Homo sapiens: one gene and its partners. The protein of the gene in region 1 purifies or fractionates together with the protein of each later gene. This does not show direct contact. Each region holds a gene or a part of one and is shown in the gene's direction. Other genes may lie near its edges.

Region 1 (7,183 bases):
TATAATGATTAAATTAGATCACATCTATAAAGGACTTAGCACAGTTCCTAATACAAATTTAAATTTTAATAATAAATACTGTCTACCATGGCTATTGTGAACAGCTTCCTCCTTGACATCATTATTTCAATTTCATTCTATTTTTTTAACTTCAGCTTTTCTCCTATAATTCATTTCTGTATGTAGGAAACATATTTTCTTCCATTTTCTGAATATATTAAACATTTTTCCAGACAATTTTCTTGTGCCTGCAAGACTTCAAAATGGAAACATTCCCTTGCTCTAAAATGTTTTTCACCAATTTCTGGTAGTTTTGATTTGTTTCCTCCTCTTCAACAGATGGAAAATTTGTACTTGGTATTTGCCAACAAATAGGTAATGGAATTTGCCTTTGATCTCATTAACTCTTGAGTGCAGATGTTGATGTACATCGACTTTGCTTCAGTTTTTTATATCCCAGACATTTATCATATCAGCCACACACACACATGTCTCTACTCTGAATCATCCATTTTTTCACTGTGACCTACAAGGCCTTACAGTGTGGTCTGGTCCGCAGCTACCTCTCTGCCCACATCTCTACCACTTTCCGCATTGCTCATTGCAGTAGCCACAATGGTCTTCTTTCTCTCATACTAGGCATGGTTCTACCTCAGTCTCTTTGAACTTTGCCTGGGACACTCTTTCCTTAGATAGTGTCATAGATTGCTCTCTGTCTTTGATTCCATTGCTCAGATATCATCTTACTAATACCAGTGAGGCCTTGCTTACCCATCTTATATAAAATTGCAAAGCTTTCCCTACCCAGACACTCTATATCCTTCTTACCAGGAGATCATTTTTTCTTTAGACTTAATATACTGTATTTTTCCTTGTTTTCTTATTTTTTTGTTTCCCTATTATTATATAAGTTCCATGAACAGCAAGAGTAAGAACTTGGCTTTGTTTACTGTTCTATCTCCAGCTAGAACAATAGGTGCTGTAGCATTCAAAATGCTGAATGGGTTGAAAGTAGGTATATAAGTCAGCTCTCATATGTGGAGGTAGGTTTGTCTCCCTCTTCAGTCTGGTTCTTTGAATCTCTCAACCGGTGTTGGAGATTTAAAAATGCTTATCCCTAGCACCCACCACTATCAGAGATTTCCTCTTTGTTCCTCCCTTTGGTGGGAACTGTTCTTTTGATTTGCATTTATTCATTGTACAAATACTTAATCAACTGCATTACTGTGTCAGTGCAAGTCACAGAGGTATCTGTGATGAGTACAACAGAGAAGATCCTTGCCCTCTTTAAGCTTCATTGATGTTTTCTGTGATGCTTATTTCCTTCCTCCAGCCTCCTCAGCTTAAATGCTGAGGCTCTTTCTTTGTGGTCAATTCCTGTCAGGGGTGTATGTTTCTACTGGCTCGCTCTTAGCTTCATAGTCAATAATAAATACATTTGAAGGAAGCTTATTTGATACACTGAAGGATTTATAAATGCTTAATGTGGAGGATGATAATAGAGCAATGGACACTTTCTTTATGCTGGCAAAAAGTTATAGCTATGTACTTCCCAGCCAAATGGATTGTCACTGCATTAGTCCCATGATGATCTGTAGGAAGGGTCAAGAAAATTGAGAATTTATGTTACACATTTTCTTATCCTAATTATTGCATTAACAGTTGGGTCTTTTGTCTCCAGGAGGCACAGGTGTACTATGGTGGCTGTATGCAAAGCAAAGAAGGTCTCCCAAAGAAACTGTTACTCCTGAGCAGCTTCAGATAGCTGAAGACAATCTTCGGGCCCTCCTCATTTATGCCATTTCAGCTACAGTGTTCACAGTGAGTTTAGGCTTTGGCGTGTCTTTCGGTTTTGTGTTTTTGTTTGCAGGAGATCATTAATGGAGCAGAAACTCAAATCTAGCTTTTGCATTCCTAACCCTGATCTCCAGTAGATAATATCTCTGTGCCATAGTGTATGAAACACTAAAAAGTCTCTTGAAGGCTTCCCTCATGGATGAGTGCTATTTGATGAAACATTTTTTCTACCCTGTCTGCTTTTTGAGAGAGGATTTTCACCTAGAATATTTACATTACCATTTGCTTACAAGAACATATTTCTTATTGTCATAAGATAATTACTTTTTAAAAATGGTTCCCTTTACTGTAGAAAAGTATGTTAAAAAATATATCATTCCATTTACTTGTTTGCTAATTATCTTCCCATTTGTCTTTCAAACTTTTCATTTAACTTTATGGCGTTATTTCAAAAATATAGGTGTGGTCAGGTACAGTGGCTTATGCCTATAATGCAAGCACTTTGGGAGACTGAAGTGGGAGGATCACTTGAGCCCACGAGTTCTAGACCAACCTGGGCAAGATAGTGAGACCCTGTCTTCACAAAAAATTAAAATCAGCTGAGCATGCTGGTGTGCACCTGTGGTCCCAGCTACTCGGGAGGCAGAGGTGGGAGGGTCACCTGAGCCATGATTGTGTCACTGCATTACAGCCTAGGCAACTGAGTGAGACCTTGTCTCCAAAATATATATGTGTGTTTGTGTGTGCGTGTGTGTGCGCGCGCGCGCGTGTGTGTGTGTGTGTGTGAGATTTGCTGCTTAGGTATTAAGCAATAAAATTACCAATTAACATGTGGTTAAATAATTTATATGTATACCTTTGGTTCATCATCGTCTTCTCTCTGAAAAAAGAAAAAAAATCAGTCTACTTCTAAGAGCAATCCCAAGCTTTTTATTGAGCATCAGAAACAAAAAATAAAGCCATCATAAAACCATTGGTGCCAAAAGATATTTGTTAGTTATTGTTATACAGATATTACAACAAAATATGAATGAAATCTCATTTTAGGTACAATTTGCTGTGCCAGCTGCTGAAGATGGGATGTGGGGGTGGGAGGAGGCAAAGGGTGAATCTGACACAGATCCCACTTTTAAGGAGCTGTTGGTCTAATAAGGAAGATACAAATAAAAACCTCGTTTTTGTGGTGTATCTGTTTAAATAAATAAAGAGTCTCATCCTGACTGACAGTATGTTTTGGTTCATAATGAGTGGCAAAGGGAAAAGGAAAAAAATTCTAGAATGTATTAATAAGTTGAGAAATCCTTTTATGTTTTGCTTTAAAGGTCACTTGGTAACCATAATATAAAATTGACAATAAATATTGCAAGAGAGATACTTACTGATAAAGTATTATTGAAATTCAAAGAATGCTACCTCCAGGTTTGGGGCTGAAGGGTTATGTTAAAAATTTCTACTATTTTCGGTTTCTGTTTTCACTACTTATAATAATAACTGAAACCATTCTCTCCATACAGGTGATCTTATTCCTGATAATGTTGGTTATGCGCAAACGTGTTGCTCTTACCATCGCCTTGTTCCACGTAGCTGGCAAGGTCTTCATTCACTTGCCACTGCTAGTCTTCCAACCCTTCTGGACTTTCTTTGCTCTTGTCTTGTTTTGGGTGTACTGGATCATGACACTTCTTTTTCTTGGCACTACCGGTAAGAAGATAAGCTTCTTTCTCTTAGTGACAAACGTGATTTGCATTCCAGTATTTTAGAACATCAGAGAGAGGTAATTCTTCAGACATTTGTTGATGAAGGTCCAATAGCCATCAGAACTTGTAGTGGTTATGGCTCCTCAACAACCTACTTCATATTCGTCTTTTTTTTTTGAGACAGAGTCTTGCTCTGTCACCCAGGCTGGAGTGAAGTGGTGCTCTCTTGGCTCACTGCAACCTCCGCCTCCCGGGTTCAAGTGATTCTTCTGCCTCAGCCTCCTGAGTAGCTGGGACTACAGGCACATGCCACCATGCCTGGCTAATTTTTGTATTTTTAGTAGAGACAGGGTTTCACCATATTGGCCAGGCTGGTCTCGAACTCCTGACCTCATGATCAGGTCAGGACGCCTGCCTTGGCCTCCCAAAGTGTTGGGATTATAGGCGTGAGCCACCGCACCTGGCCTTTTATTTTTTTTGAGACAGAGTGTCTCTCTGTCACACAAACTGGAGTGCAGTGGTGTGATCTCAGCTCACTGCAACCTCAGCCTCCCAGGTTTAAGCGATTCTCCTGCCTCAGCCTCCCGAGCAGCTGGCACTACAGGTATGCACCACCATGCCTGGCTAATTTTTGTATCTTTAGTAGAGACAGGGTTTCTCCATGTTGCCCAGGCTGCTCTCCAACTCCTGGCCTCATGTGATCCATCCACCTCGGCCTCCCAAAGTGCTGGGATTACAGGCGTGAGCCAGCGTGCCCAGCCCATATTCATGATTTTTTAGAACATCCTAGCAATGTAAGTCTAGATCAGGGAAGGCCTGAAATTGCACTCTAATTTTGAAATGATCATGAATTTGAAGTAAGTTCCAATACTGACTCAGACATTTAGATTCATTCTAAGATGAACCAGTGAATGCAATGTCACTCAGGAGTTACCTCAAATCCCAGGTATAGCCAAGGATCTACTTACTTCCTTGGGATTTTCTGGTTTCGAAATGATCTGACCCTAGCTAGAGCTCCAACTGATGATATAGTTCATAGTTAGACACTCAGACTTTCTTACAGCCGTACTGAGTATCAAAGGTTAAGCTTAAATGGAACTAATTGTAAAGAGTATCATAAGGATAGTAAACTTTTATGTAACTATGTAACTTATCTGTCCATTCAGCACACACACTTAGCAACTGAATATAATAATAATTTCTGTACTTTGCTAAGAAATCTGTAATGATTGGATAAATAATAGGCCTTGAAAAAAACTGAAGTGTTTGAAAATTCATGCTTAAATAATTGATAATATAAGAAGAGTTTTATTAAATATAACAACTTTTAAAAGCTTTATATGATGCCTTTGAGGACATCAAAATGCATAATAGTACAATTCTTAATTTCACAACTTTTCAAGTGATAGTTATTTTTGTCCCTTTATGAAATACCACACAGATCAGAAGGTTTGTGGCTTGGGGTAGGGACCTATTGCCTTCTACTTAACTGCCGTATTTCTGGATTTGTACTTTATGTGCTTCTTCTTTCCTTCCTTGATATTTTCCTAGGCAGTCCTGTTCAGAATGAGCAAGGCTTTGTGGAGTTCAAAATTTCTGGGCCTCTGCAGTACATGTGGTGGTACCATGTGGTGGGCCTGATTTGGATCAGTGAATTTATTCTAGCATGTCAGCAGATGACAGTGGCAGGAGCTGTGGTAACATACTATTTTACTAGGTAAGAATATGTTGTTATTAGAAAACTCGAGTTCATCTAAGGGATGGTGTCCGCAGGCTGGAGGGGAAGGGAATCAGACTGGGGCTGGCAGGAGTTTCATTTCTTTAACAAAAGAATTAGAAATGAATATGACAGAGTGTTATATATAGTTGATAATTCTGGGAGGTGGTCAAATGAGAGATTGTTGTTTTATTCTTTATACTTTTCTGCAGTTGTCTCATAAAATTTATTGCGATGTCACAAATTGTATTTAGCAGAAGAATAAATCTTATAGTGGTGCCATATGTACTTTTGCTTTATATAAAAGTCCATCAAAGGACAACAAGTCTTTTTAGTTTGTTTAGACCGGAACAAGTGTGAGTTCCCTTTGCTAACTTTAGAGCCAAATATGAAAGCTTTAGGTCTCATAATTTTCTATTATAATTAGATGCCAAGTCTAAATTTAACATCTTTTTAAATTCTGTTTTCTGATGACCCCATAAGTATTCACTAATAAAAGCTTTCAGAGCACAGTTTTATTTAACTTGAAGTATTAGAGCATCAGAACCCCATGAAACTACCATAGAGCAATGACATTAATTTTATATAGCATGTCTGTAGCATTTGTAATAGTTATATATCACTTGGCCATTTTGTCATAAAGCTAAAATAAGAATGATGAGCTGATTTTTTTTTTCACTGCGTTGGACTCTAAACCATACCTGTGTTTCCATCCTGATCTAGGCTTTGTTTTAATTGTCTTTTTGGTCATTTTTTAAATAGGGATAAAAGGAATTTGCCATTTACACCTATTTTGGCATCAGTAAATCGCCTTATTCGTTACCACCTAGGTACGGTGGCAAAAGGATCTTTCATTATCACATTAGTCAAAATTCCGCGAATGATCCTTATGTATATTCACAGTCAGCTCAAAGGAAAGGTAAGGGGAAAATGCATTTCTGTACTTTCTGTGGGCACATTCCAGACCTCAGTTCTGCATGTAGTAAAGCACCCAATAATGTTAAATACAAAGTTGTGTTTTCTTCAAAGTCTTTACAAGGCAAAATCCAGCCCTTCTCCCTTGTCTCCCACTCATGCACTCCATATGCTCTGGCAAAATTCATCCAGTCACTAGTAACTAAAAGTATCCTGTGCTGCTCTTCCTCTCTGTTGACTCACATACCTTCCTCCTTAGAACTTCTTCCCTTCCTTGACTGTGGGAATAACATGCACTTCAACTAGTTTAGCTCAAATTCTACTCCTTTGTAGAAACCTTTCCTGATTCCTCCCATCTCCCAAACAATGCTGTCTCTTTGTTCTCCACTCTCATAACACTTAGTATCTATACTATATTCTGATTCTAACCTTTTTTGTGTTTGGTATTTTTTTTCTCCTACTAGATTGTAAGTTCCTTGCAGGTGTTATAAACTTCACTGTATATGCAGTAGAGACTAAATAAATATTTAATTGAACTTATTAAAAATAATTCAGTCATTATGTTTTAAGGAGAAAGTGGACAAGTATGGAGGCTTTGAAGCATAAATTGTGATTTTTAAATTTTTATTTATTTTTCTAACGTTTGAAGTCTTCTATGTGACAGTTTGATTCTTTGGTTTTTTTATTATTTCCATTTTTCCCCCATCCAGGAAAATGCTTGTGCACGATGTGTGCTGAAATCTTGCATTTGTTGCCTTTGGTGTCTTGAAAAGTGCCTAAATTATTTAAATCAGGTAAAATATTTTAAAAATAAATCTAATATTTACTTTCAAAGATAGGTTCATTGTTTCTTCTCCCAAGATAAACTTAATTGAAAGATGTTATGTTTTTCTTGTGGTATTGTACATTGTGCCTTGATAAAGTATGTCTATTTCAATCATATTCTTATTTTTTAAATTAATGTATATGCTTACCAAGGCTCATTATTATTTTAATTTTTTCCAACTTTTAGGTTTAGGGAGTACATGTACAGATTTGTTACATATGTTATTATTTT
Region 2 (4,146 bases), on another chromosome or scaffold:
TTGCATTCTTCCCCCTTGGAGCCAAGACGATTGGCCAGACATCACCTCAGATCTGAGACCAGCGTCTTCCATCTCTCAGAGCCTTACTCCCAAAGTACCTGCTCACTGTTCCGTGTTGAACAATTGCCGGTGTTTCCTCTCTTCACTGGTTTCCATGAGTACCCTTATATTTCACAACTTTCTGTTCATAAGTTATAGTGACATTGCTCTTTGGTAAAAATGCCTGCTTTCCAATACTTTGATTGCATATTAGACATTCTTAACAGGGCGGCAGTCTAGTGTTGAAAGTTTTATTTTTCCATTTTTCTTTTAAGTAAATTTTTTTTAAAAAATTCTGATTTAGGGCTAGGTGTGGTGGCTCAGGCCTGTAATCCTGGCACTTTGGGAGGCCAAGGTGGGAAGATCGCTTGAGGCCAAGAGTTCAAGACCAGCCTGGGCAACATAGCGAGACCCCTATCTGTATTAAAAAAAAATCTGATTTAATTCTTTTATTTATCATAAGGGGTTTAATTCCTGAAGTAAAGGTTTGCACCTATTAAACTTAAAACTGCCAAATGATTTTTGTTCTTTTATGTGCGTGATAAAAATACAAAGAATGGTGTGGCCACCTCCTCCCTTTCAAGCTAGGGCAGCAGGTAGCTCTTCCCAGCCCCTGAGCCCAGCCCCTTCCCAAGTGGTGCCGGACAAAAAACTACATGGCCCTTTCGTGTCTTGGGGGTGGAAAGGTAGGGATGAATTGGGGTGATAGAACCCTGGTGAATTCAGAGTAATCTTTCTTTAGAAAACTGGTGTTTTCTAAAGAAACAGGATAGGAGTTTAGAGAAGGCACCAAAGCTTTCACTTTGGTTTGGCACCAGTTTCTAACCATCTGTTTTTTCTACCCTAGCTATCTTTTATTGGTAAAATATAAATGTATAATTATGTTTGTAGAGCTTTACCAAGGAGTTTCCCTCCTTTTTTGTTTGTTGATTAGCAAATTTTTGATTCTCCATTTTCCAAAAGTAAGAGACTCCAGCATGGCCTTCTGTTTGCCCCGCAGTAAAGTAACTTCCATATAAAATGGTATTTGAAAGTGAGAGTTCATGACAACAGACCGTTTTCCATTTCATCTGTATTTTATCTCCGTGACTCCAACTTGTGGGTTTGTTCTGTTTTTCCATGAGAATAAAATACTGGCGGTTTTTTTCTCAGATGTGTGTTCATTGAGAAGTAGGTTACTAGAATTATGTTACTGTGTCTTATTGGTTCAATGATGATTTCTCTGGCATATTAGACTTTTATTTTTTCCCCCATGGAAGCACTTGAGGAAATAAATAGTACACTGGCTGTTTTCTGCCAGCAACTGTGGTGATTTTTCTCCCTGTCCTTTGAGAATTGCTAGTCTGCTTCTGAGCCATTGTCATATCCAGCAGGGAGCAGCTTGGTTCAAGAAGGACCATAGAGGCTGCTCAGCATCTCCTCCCTCCCTCCCAGCTTGCCAGGGATTTGATGAGACAGGAAACTGCCCAGCAAACCAGGGACTGCCCATGTAAACTATTTAAGAAAAAGTTCAACCCAGGTCTTGTATCCTGTGATTTAGCAGTTGAATGAATACAGAATTCATCAAAATAATATTAACCTTGTACTTGCACACTTGGATATATTTGGGAGTAATTTTAGGAGATTTCTGGCTGACTTTTATTATCAGGGATATGGGTTTAGTAAAGCTTTTATCTTTAGAAAAATGTTTGTATGCATTATAAGATGCTACTTTTAAGACAATATTGAAAAAAACTTTGGTTATTATTTAACAAAAGTGGTATGACTTGATGCTTCTCTATTTAAAGGCAAGGAAGGATTGGTATATGATTGCCTGTAATAAATAAATTGCGTGATTATTGGAGTACATTGGGGTAAAAGTAAAGAACAGAGGAGTATTGAGGAGCTTGAAAGGGAACATTCAAACTAAAGCCAAGCCTGAAGATAACTTGAATCAGTTGTAAAAGTGTGTTGGCAATGTCCGAAATTGAATGAAAAACATCTGGCTTATAAGAAATGTTAAAGAACTACCATCTTAAGTAAAATTGGTGTTTTTGTTATTTTTAAGGTAAATGCCAATGCAAAAGGTATGTTTTTCTACTTCACATTGGTTTTCTTTTCCTGTTTACATCTGCACTTGTTTTTTGCTGAGAGCCAGAGGAAAAGATAATTAGACTTTGTCTCTTCCACCCATGAAATCCCCCAGTACCCAGGGCTTCTTCTGAACTACTGCCGATGTGATGTCACTTTGTATCTGGAAAATCACTTTGGGGTCCATTTACTGTTATTTTGTTGCCTACAAAAACAGCCAGGTGAAAGCTAAATCTTGTGTGAGAGTTTGCAGAGGTTTTTCTATACAATAAAGTAGTATAGCACACTAGCCAAATCCATCCAAAAGGACCTTTTTTTTAGGAAGTAGACTTGAATTCACAAAACAGTCTTGACATGGGTAGCTGGTGAAAAACCCTCTGGAGAGCAAGTGGAGCCAGTCCCCATTGGCTGACAGTGCCACCTGGAGCTGGTCTCTGGGGTGTTCGGTTGTTTATTCCTGAGGAAGACTAGCTGCTGCTGCTGCTGCTGCTGCAAACTGTACTGTACACATCATGGCTGCTGGACACGAAGGAGGAGGTGAGAGAAGTTTCATGCTACCGAAATAGAGGGTGTTGGTACCACTGCCCCTGGCCTGAGAGCCAGGGTTTAAACCTGCCTCAGTAGAGTCTAGTTTGAAATGACACCAAAATTCCTCAGCCCCTACTCAGCAATTGGTTTTGGTTTCCAAATGACTTCTGCATTTGTAAAGATAACAGAGTGGTGGGGTCAAAGTTTATCTTGTGTTTAGATCTCTTCAAGACTGCTTAAGCAAAAACAAAAATCCCTTGGAACCTATCGTTTGAGCCTGTAAAGTTGTTTTAGCAGTTGTCATAAATGCATATGTTGTGAAATCAGAACACTGTCGAGTTTATACTCATTTAGCTGCAATGTGGGACAATGAAAAATGCTTTACAGGCCTGGAGTATCATTACTTATGGTATCTCCTGCTTTAAAATCTCAAGCGATATCTATCTGGTTAAATTCCATTTTAGGAGATTGAGATGCAGAACGTTAATGTTCATTACCTCCTCCTACCCCAAGAGAAATGGATTCAGACATGTCTTGTCTCAACAAGAAATTGATTTTTTTTTAAACTATCTTATTCTGTTGCCAAATATCACAGAAGTAATGAGGAGTTTAGTTACATTTGGCTGTTGTGCTCTGAAAGAGCCAGGTTTGGAATTTGTGGGGGTGATCTAGGAAGAAGGTTCCAAAGAAGCAGAGGCATTTGTCAAGTTACCTACCCTATATCCAGCATCCTCCTCATGAGCTTCAGTAGCTGCTCTTTGCCCACGCTTGTATCCTACGTTTGCTATTTGGGCAAACCATTACTTCAGTTATTTAACTTCCCTTTTTTTTTAACTTCACCTTTGACTATGAACAAGTAACGGTAACATTCCTTTTGTGTATTCAATAATGCAGTTAGTTTACCTTTTTCAGAATATTTTGAACAAAGATCTTTGTCTCTTTCTGCTGGAATGCGCACACAGTGAACGTTTGTTAGAACTACACACAATAAAGACACTGTTTTCCTTTTCTTGCCCCGACTACACTTATTATTTTTAATTTAAAAAGGTGTTTTTTAAGTAGAAGTGTTGGTTTTGTAATCCTCAGGTGTTCTGGAAGAAAAGGATTTCAGAAGCATGACAGTCTCCCGTGTCTGTGCTAATGGTGTGTTTAGCATAACGTGGTGGGGAGTTCCGTGGTTCTCCAGGATTCTCCTCACTGTTCTTTTCGTGAAGTGAATCGTTCATTTGATAATCGTGAAATGCAAAAAGCAAGGCTGTGTTTTAATGGCTGTGAAGTGGGAACGGGGTAGCCAGGTTTGAGGTTCTGTTTCCACTGAAAATACCTACTGACAGAGAAGCCAGTACCAGGTAATACTGTTTTGTTATCTGCAATGCCAGTCTTCAAATGATTGTTTTTCTTGGAAATAGCTAAACTGTTGGGGAAAATTAAACACTGAGATTGAAGTTTAGTGACTGTGTTAATAAAACAAGGGAAATAAACCGTTTTTATAATTACCTTTGAAACATA
Region 3 (7,183 bases), on another chromosome or scaffold:
CACGTCCGTTTCTCTCTTGAGACCAGACATTTATAAACTTGGCATTCGGAACCTGATGTGGGCCTTGAAAAGCAGGAATTGTGAGGCCAGTGCCCAGCAGCACTTTGCACAGAGGCTGCTGAGAGGGGGTGTCCAACAGGCATCCAGAGAGAGGCCAACCTCAGTGGAGTAGGATGGTTATTGGGGGGCTGTGCCTCTTCCCTGGCCTGATCTCATCCCTGTGGGTCACTCCCTGATGGCCACAGCCAAACCAGCAAATCAGTCTGTTCTTCCACCACCTCCAGAACCGGCCCTCCTAGCTCTATTTTGATTGTTTCTACATTTCCTTCAGACCTCCCTGCCCGCCTGCCCACCCCCCAAAAAACAGTTGAGAGGGAAAACATCTTGCTGATGTCCATGTGGTAGACACACAAGTATTTCTCCAGCTGAAATGGGGAACCAGGGTTAGGGCCAGTCCAGTCTGACACATGCATGTCTGCCCTCTTTCTGGTCAGAGAAGGGGAGGAACTCCTTAGGGCAAAAGAGGGAAAGGTTTGGCTATACTGACAGAGCCCAATCCCCTCCCCACCTCCCTCAGCCCCTTTGCTTACTGTCTCTCATGCCTCGCTCACTGATGGAAACAGCAGTGTGGGGCTGGGAGGTCTCTTTCCCAAGAAACCATATCCCCTAGACCTAGGGGAGGCTGGTGCGAAACACAGAGACCTACACTGGGAATTCAGAGACCTGGATGTGAGCCCAGCTCTGTCCTCAACTCACTTTGAAACCTTGGGTTGGTCACTTCTGTGCTCTAAGCCTCAGTTTCCTCATCTGTAAAACAATAGCTTGGAACAAATGGTCTCAAAAGGTCCTTTCAAGCTCAGTCTATGAACCCAACACCCCTACACATACCACATACAACAATAGAACTCTCCTACACAACCCAAAATAGGAACCAATATTGGGTACGATGTATACTATGTTGGTGATGGTCACATTAAAAGCCCAGACTTCACCATGTGTAACAAAACTACATTCGTGTCCCCTAAATCTATAAATAATAATATAATAAACAAAATACAAGCCCTGAATTGGAAATGGGAGATGGATACCAAGGCTTGAGTCCTCAGAACTTAGCTTTTCTTGGCCTTTACCTCTGGAGCAAGAGCCCAGCTGGTGCTTTTCTTTGCTGTTGCTTCTCAGTTCCCTCTCCTCACCCTGGGTGGGGTCTCTCTCAGGGGTGTTCATTGCCCGTATACCTTAGTACTTGGCCTAGTGATCAAAGCACCAGTCCTGGGTTCCATGTCTCATCACCAGATGGGGCTGGTGACCACCCCACATGGTGCTGTGAGAGTTAAATGGGGAGTATGTGTAGTGCACTTAGCATAGTAGATTGCACCAGACATATCTTCCAACAGTAGCTATTGTTATTCACTAGTGGAGAGTAGAATGAGGCCCTGGGGAGGGTGAGAGCAGTTCTCTAAGAAGTGTGGAAGTCTAAACCGCAGATGTGGCCAGGAGGACCCTCCCAATCCACACACTGGCCTCCCTGCCCCTTCCTGTATCAGTGCCAACTTTGTCCTGTGCATCAAAACCCTGACTCCATTTCATGGGTTGCTACTGCTCATTTGGCTGCGGGAAGGCCCCGCTTCTGAAAATAAAATTGCCTGTCAGAGAAACCCTAAGGATCAGGATTCCGGATCTGGGCAGGGCATGGACAAGTTGGGTGGCAGTGGCAAAAGCCCCTCCCCATGGTCTGCCTTTTCCCCCAGAAGCAAGTTGCTGGGACTGTTGCATAAAATGGCTCCCACCTCCAGTGCCCAGACAGCCTGCGCTGGGGTGAAGCTGGCTACACGTGCACTGAAGCTGGCAGGCTTGGGGAGAGGTGAGCTGAGGCCAGGTATCTGCTTCCTTTGCCCAGGATTTTGATGGTCTCTCCCCTACACCCACAGTGGGTGTGAACAACAAAGACCCAATCTTTTGATGGTGGTGAGGATTCCTCTGCACACGCTCACACTCACGTTCTCTACCCCCTTCTTTTCAACGTGGCCCACAGCACGATTCCAGACCCTGCTCTATTGTGCTCAGAGGAAGCAGCTGCTGGCTCCAGCCCGAATTTGGGAGTGCTTTGATATGCAGCCCTCTCTGGGGCCCTGCCAGTACTGACTCTAGATGAGCCCTCTGCGGCTGCTGGGCTCACAAATCAGCCTTCTCACCCCTTCCTCCAGGAGCAGTGTTGGATGAGAATCTCCCCCTTACACACATAGATCCTGTGTTTGTTTTGTCTGCTTTTGTTTGTTTGTTTGTTTTTGTTTTCCTGTTCTGTTCAATTTTATAAGGAGGCATAGCTTTTGGACTTGGTTGCAGGGTTGGGTTTGGAACTTAATAATACCTTGGATTGACAAAGGCGCCTTTTCTTCTAAAGAACACAAACCTTGATGGTTCTTGCCTGGGTGTGGTTCTCACCTGGGTGAGCCTGGCTGTGAGGGTAGGGGGCCTGAGGTCACCCCAACCACAGCTTCTGTGGTCCTACTGGCAGCATGTTCTAGACAGACCTGTGTGGAGCTGGGGAAAGGAGAGTGGAGAAGTTTGAGGAAGCTGCATGTTTATGTTTTGTGTTCCTCCCTCCCCCAGGTTGGGGTCAGCGGGACTTTATTTGGATCCACCACAGGTCTTTTCAACCAAAGCCTTGCAGAAACAGGCTTTACCCCATACACACAGAAGAGCAACGACTTCCTTGTTAAGAGTCTGAAAATCTGGGTGAGAGCCTGTCAGACCCATGGCCTCAGAGAGCAGGAAAAATCCTTTGCAACTGGGAAGGAAATTCAGAAGACAAAAAAAAAAAAAAATGCAGGGGAATAGGGGGCGGGGGCTAGTCTTTATACATTTCTTTCTTTCTTTTTTTTTTTGGAGACGGTGCTCACTCTGTCACCCAGGCTGGAGTGCAGTGTTAACAATCATGGCTCATGGCTCACTGCAAACTCAACCTCCCAGCTCAGGCGATCCTCACACCTCAGCCTCCTGAGTAACTGGGACTACAGGCATGTGCCACTACACCCAGCTAACCTTTTAATTTTTTTGTAGAGACAGGATCTCACTATGTTGCCCAGGCTGGTCTCAAACTCCTAGGCTCAAGCGATCTGCCAACCTTGGCCTCCCAAAATGCTAGGATTACAGGAATGAGCCACCGCGCCTGGCCTACATTTCTTAAATTTATGTTTTAAGGCCTGACTACAGATTACTTGCCTGTTTTATTCCATGGAAAAAGTCATGCTGGTCCAGGGACATTCTCATTTTCCATCAAGTGATGGCATGCAGCCGTAGAAAGCAACATCCTGTCCCCAGATGAGATAATTTTTTTGTGATAATTTTATAATAATTGTATCTATCTGGTAATTTCCTCCCCCCGCCTCTCCAAAAATACTTAGTTGTGGATAGTTTTAAGTGCTATATCCTGTCATCCTAGACTAATACATCTTAACGTTTTTAGGGAAATTCCTTTTTAGGGAATTCCTTGGAATCAGTACGACCTGCCTCCAGAAAAATGTTATGTCTGTTTCTGGAGGCCCATAGACATTTTTTTTTTTTTTGCCTTTTTCTCCATTGCCCAGGCTGCAGTATAGTGGCACCATCATAGTTCACTGCAGCCTCAAACTCCTGGGCTTTACACAATCCTGGCCTCAGCCTCTCAAGTAGCTGGGACTACAGCACACACCACTATACCCGGCTAATTTTTTTGTACAGAGAGGGTCTCTCTATGTCGCCCAAGCTGGTCTTGAACTCCTGGGCTCAAGCAGTCCTTCAGCCTCGGACTCCCAAAGCACTGGGATCATAAATGTGAGCCACCACGCCCAGCCTGAGCTCACGCTATAAATGCCCCATATTGGTTTTTCTCCCTCAGTTTCCAGACAACCCCTGCTCTGTCCTGAGTCCCATATTTCTGCCATAAGAAGCAGGTTGCCTCACCGTTCCCCGGGGGCTGCAATGGGGGCATCACAGGGGACTTTGTGAAAGGCATTAGAAATGATAAATTCCCTAGTGATCAAGTGCAGCTCAGATGGGACAGCTGGCCTCCCACCCATCCCTCTGACTCTCAGCTTAATCATTGCCTAAGGAGTGGTTTTCACTCGGTTAATTTAATGAGTGCTCTGTATTTCTAGTACACACGAAAAATGCAACTGTATGATCTTCCAGCCAGGTTGGGCCTCTTGGCTTAGCTTTTCCCAGAGCTTGGTGCTTCATCTTTGTTCAGGAAGAAAGGAGGTCTGTCTCTCTTCTCCTTCCCTCCAAATGCAGACGGAAAGTCTCGTCCTCTGAGGACTTGCAGAAAGGAGGAATGTCTCAGGAGGGATCATTTGGGGAGCTGCACTCCCAAGGAGTTGAGAAGCAGCCTGGTTGAGTAACTGGGAAAGGCAAAGCAGCCTGACTTGGAGAGGGGCCCGGATTAATGTGATTCCAGAGGAGGTCCCGGTAGAGAGAAGTTTGGGGACTACTGACTTGGAGAAAAATCAGAAACCCGGGTCTTAAGAGCCCTTCCTCTTCAATCCTTAAGCCAGGCATTGTGCCTGAGGGAAGAAATAGTGGCTCTTATGAGCTCTGCTAGAAAAGTAACCCTTCAGGCCAGGCGCGGTGGCTCACGCCTATAATCCCAGCATTTTGGGAGGCCGAGACAGGCGGATCACCTGAGGTTGGGAGTTTGAGACCAGCCTGGCCAACATGGAAAAACCCCCTCTCTACTAAAAATGCAAAATTAGCCAGTCATGGTGGCAGGTGCCTGTAATCCCAGCTACTTGGGAGGCTGAGGCAGGAGAATTGCTTGAACCTGGGAGGCGGCGGTTGCAGTGAGCTGAAATCGTGCCATTGCACTCCAGCCTGGGCGACAAGAGTGAAACTCCATCTCAAAAAAAAAAAAAAAAGAAAAGAAAAGTAACCCTTCACAGCTTACCCAATGCACATCCAAGTTTCCAGTGACACCTCTGAGCAGGCTAAGCAGCTGGTGGCTCCTGCCAAGCCCTCTCCTCGGAACTGAGCTTCACAGCTTCAGGTGCCAGTCCCTTGCTGACACTCCCAGTCTAAGCTGTGTGTTAGTCTCCAAGTTCAGAAACAACACAATACATGGGTCATAGGAGAAGAACCTCGACTGAGGCTAAAAATACCATAAAGTTAATCAGGCAGTTTTATTAATTATGAATTTATTAATTCAAAACCTATTCAAGGATTTTAGTTTTTTTTGTTTGTTTGTTTGTTTTTGTTCTTTTTTTTTTGAGGTGGAGTTTCACTCTTGTTGCCCAGGCTGGAGTGTAATGGTGCGATCGCAGCTCACCGCAACCTCCGCCTCCTGAGTTCAAGCCATTCTCCTGCCTCAGCCTCCTGAGTAGTTGGGATTACAGGGGTGTGCCACCATGCCCGGCTAATTTTTAGTAGAGACGGGGTTTCTCCATGTTGATCAGGCCGGTCTTGAACTCCTGACCTCAGGTGATCCACCCGCCTCAGCCTCCCAAAGTGCTGGGATTACAGGTGTGTAGTTTAATGTCTTTTAAACCTAAGTTGATTGAATGTAGTATGATAATACAGTGTACTGATTTATTAAAACTCTAAATGAAATGATCAGCAAAATCATACTATTTGTGAACTCATCATTGCTTTTTTTGTTGTTTGTTTTGAGACAGAGTCTCGCTCTGTCACCCAGGCTGGAGTGCAGTGGCGCAATCTTGGCATACTGCAACCTCTGCCTCCCAGGTTCAAGTGATTCTCCCGCCTCAGCCTCCTGAGTAGCTGCGACTACAGGCACATGCCACCACGCCCAGCTAATTTTTGTATTTTTAGTAGAGATGGGATTTCATCATGTTGGCCAGGCTGGTCTCACCTCAGGTGATCCACCCACCTCTGCCTCCCAAAGTGCTGGGATTATAGGCGTGAGCCACCGCACCGGGCTCGTCGTAGCTTTTCAAGTCAATAGAAATCTGGTGTTTGAATCCACATCATGTCTTCCCTTGTAGGTGGGCAGTTGCAGTGTGTAGTGTGCATGCACACCCCAGATTTATGCCCAACTCCACTGGATGTTTTCTGGGTGGGGAGTCATCCATACCTCCCTCAGCGGCCCCGTTCCTAGAGACGGGAGGCCCTTCCCACTAAGACATATTCCTCCTGCTCTCCATGGTGCAATGTAAACATCTTCTTTCTCACAATGTGGGACTGTGGATTTAAATTTATTATTGCTAAGCTCAGATGTTTTAAAGCTTCCTGTCTACAAGCCTGAGAAAATCTCTTCATACTCTCCTTTCCTCCTCTCTAGTCAAATTGTAGCCCTGGCTCCCTAAGACACAACCCTTTAGAGACCCAGACTGCAAATTTCTTTTTTTTTTTTTTTTTTTTTCTGAGATGGAGTCTCATTCTGTTGCCCAGGCTGGAGTGTAGTGGCACAATCTCGGCTCACTGCAACCTCTGCCTCCTGGGTTCAAGCGATTCTCATGCCTCAGCCTCTTGAGTAGCTGGGATTACAGGCATGTACCACCATGCCCGGCTAATTTTTGTGTTTTTAGTAGAGATGGGGTTTTGCCACGTTGACCAGGCTGGTCTCGAACTGCTGACCTCAGGTGATACGCCCACCTCGGCCTTCCAAAGTGCTGGGATTACAGGCGTGAGTCACCGCGCCCAGCTGGGACTGCTCATTTCAAATAGAAATTAGATTATCTTCTAGGATGAGGAGGGACACTTTGGCCTTCTTTGTCATGGGAGGCTGGCACTCTCCTCTAGGACCCTGGGGTGTGTCTTGAGAGCTCGTGCCCAGGGCTATAACACAGAGAGGCCTGTGCTGATGTCATCTTGTTCTGCCCTTTGCTGGCAGGGTGGTTCTGGGGAAGGGCAGAGGCTCCGGGTCCCACTCTGGGGCTGTTTTCACGGGGGATGGAAGGACCATGGCCACTGAACGGGCTGCGGTCCCGTCTATGGACACAATGCCAATGGGCAGCTGCAACAGTGCAGCCAAGGGGAAAGGAGGATGTGCGAGTTGCCCTGGAGAGTCCCTTCCCAGAGCGCCGCCTCTGTCCACCCTGACTATATGACCAGTGGAACCAAGGGTGTGGCTGAAGCTCTCAGGACAAAGGCCAGGGAGAGGAAGCACCGGCTGTTTTTTTTAGACTCTCTTCGAGCACCCACTACCCCCACTGCCCCCAAGCGAGGCCAGGTGTAGGTGGCATCTCCAGCC

The links.
Region 2: the proteins of SLC44A1 (region 1) and CYB5B purify together in Homo sapiens (affinity purification with mass spectrometry; 2 studies listed by BioGRID and IntAct, with this or other methods). This does not show direct contact.
Region 3: the proteins of SLC44A1 (region 1) and CD9 purify together in Homo sapiens (co-immunoprecipitation; 2 studies listed by IntAct). This does not show direct contact.

What each region holds. Positions count from the first base shown.
Region 1 is NC_000009.12:105,359,510-105,366,692, forward strand, and holds part of SLC44A1 (choline transporter-like protein 1), read left to right. Parts: intron 1-1,681; coding exon 1,682-1,821; intron 1,822-3,311; coding exon 3,312-3,498; intron 3,499-5,045; coding exon 5,046-5,211; intron 5,212-5,973; coding exon 5,974-6,130; intron 6,131-6,836; coding exon 6,837-6,920; intron 6,921-7,183.
Region 2 is NC_000016.10:69,462,619-69,466,764, forward strand, and holds the end of CYB5B (cytochrome b5 type B), read left to right. Parts: 3' UTR 1-3,646; downstream 3,647-4,146. UniProt on the Homo sapiens protein: Cytochrome b5 is a membrane-bound hemoprotein functioning as an electron carrier for several membrane-bound oxygenases.
Region 3 is NC_000012.12:6,203,349-6,210,531, forward strand, and holds part of CD9 (CD9 antigen), read left to right. Parts: intron 1-7,183. UniProt on the Homo sapiens protein: Integral membrane protein associated with integrins, which regulates different processes, such as sperm-egg fusion, platelet activation and aggregation, and cell adhesion.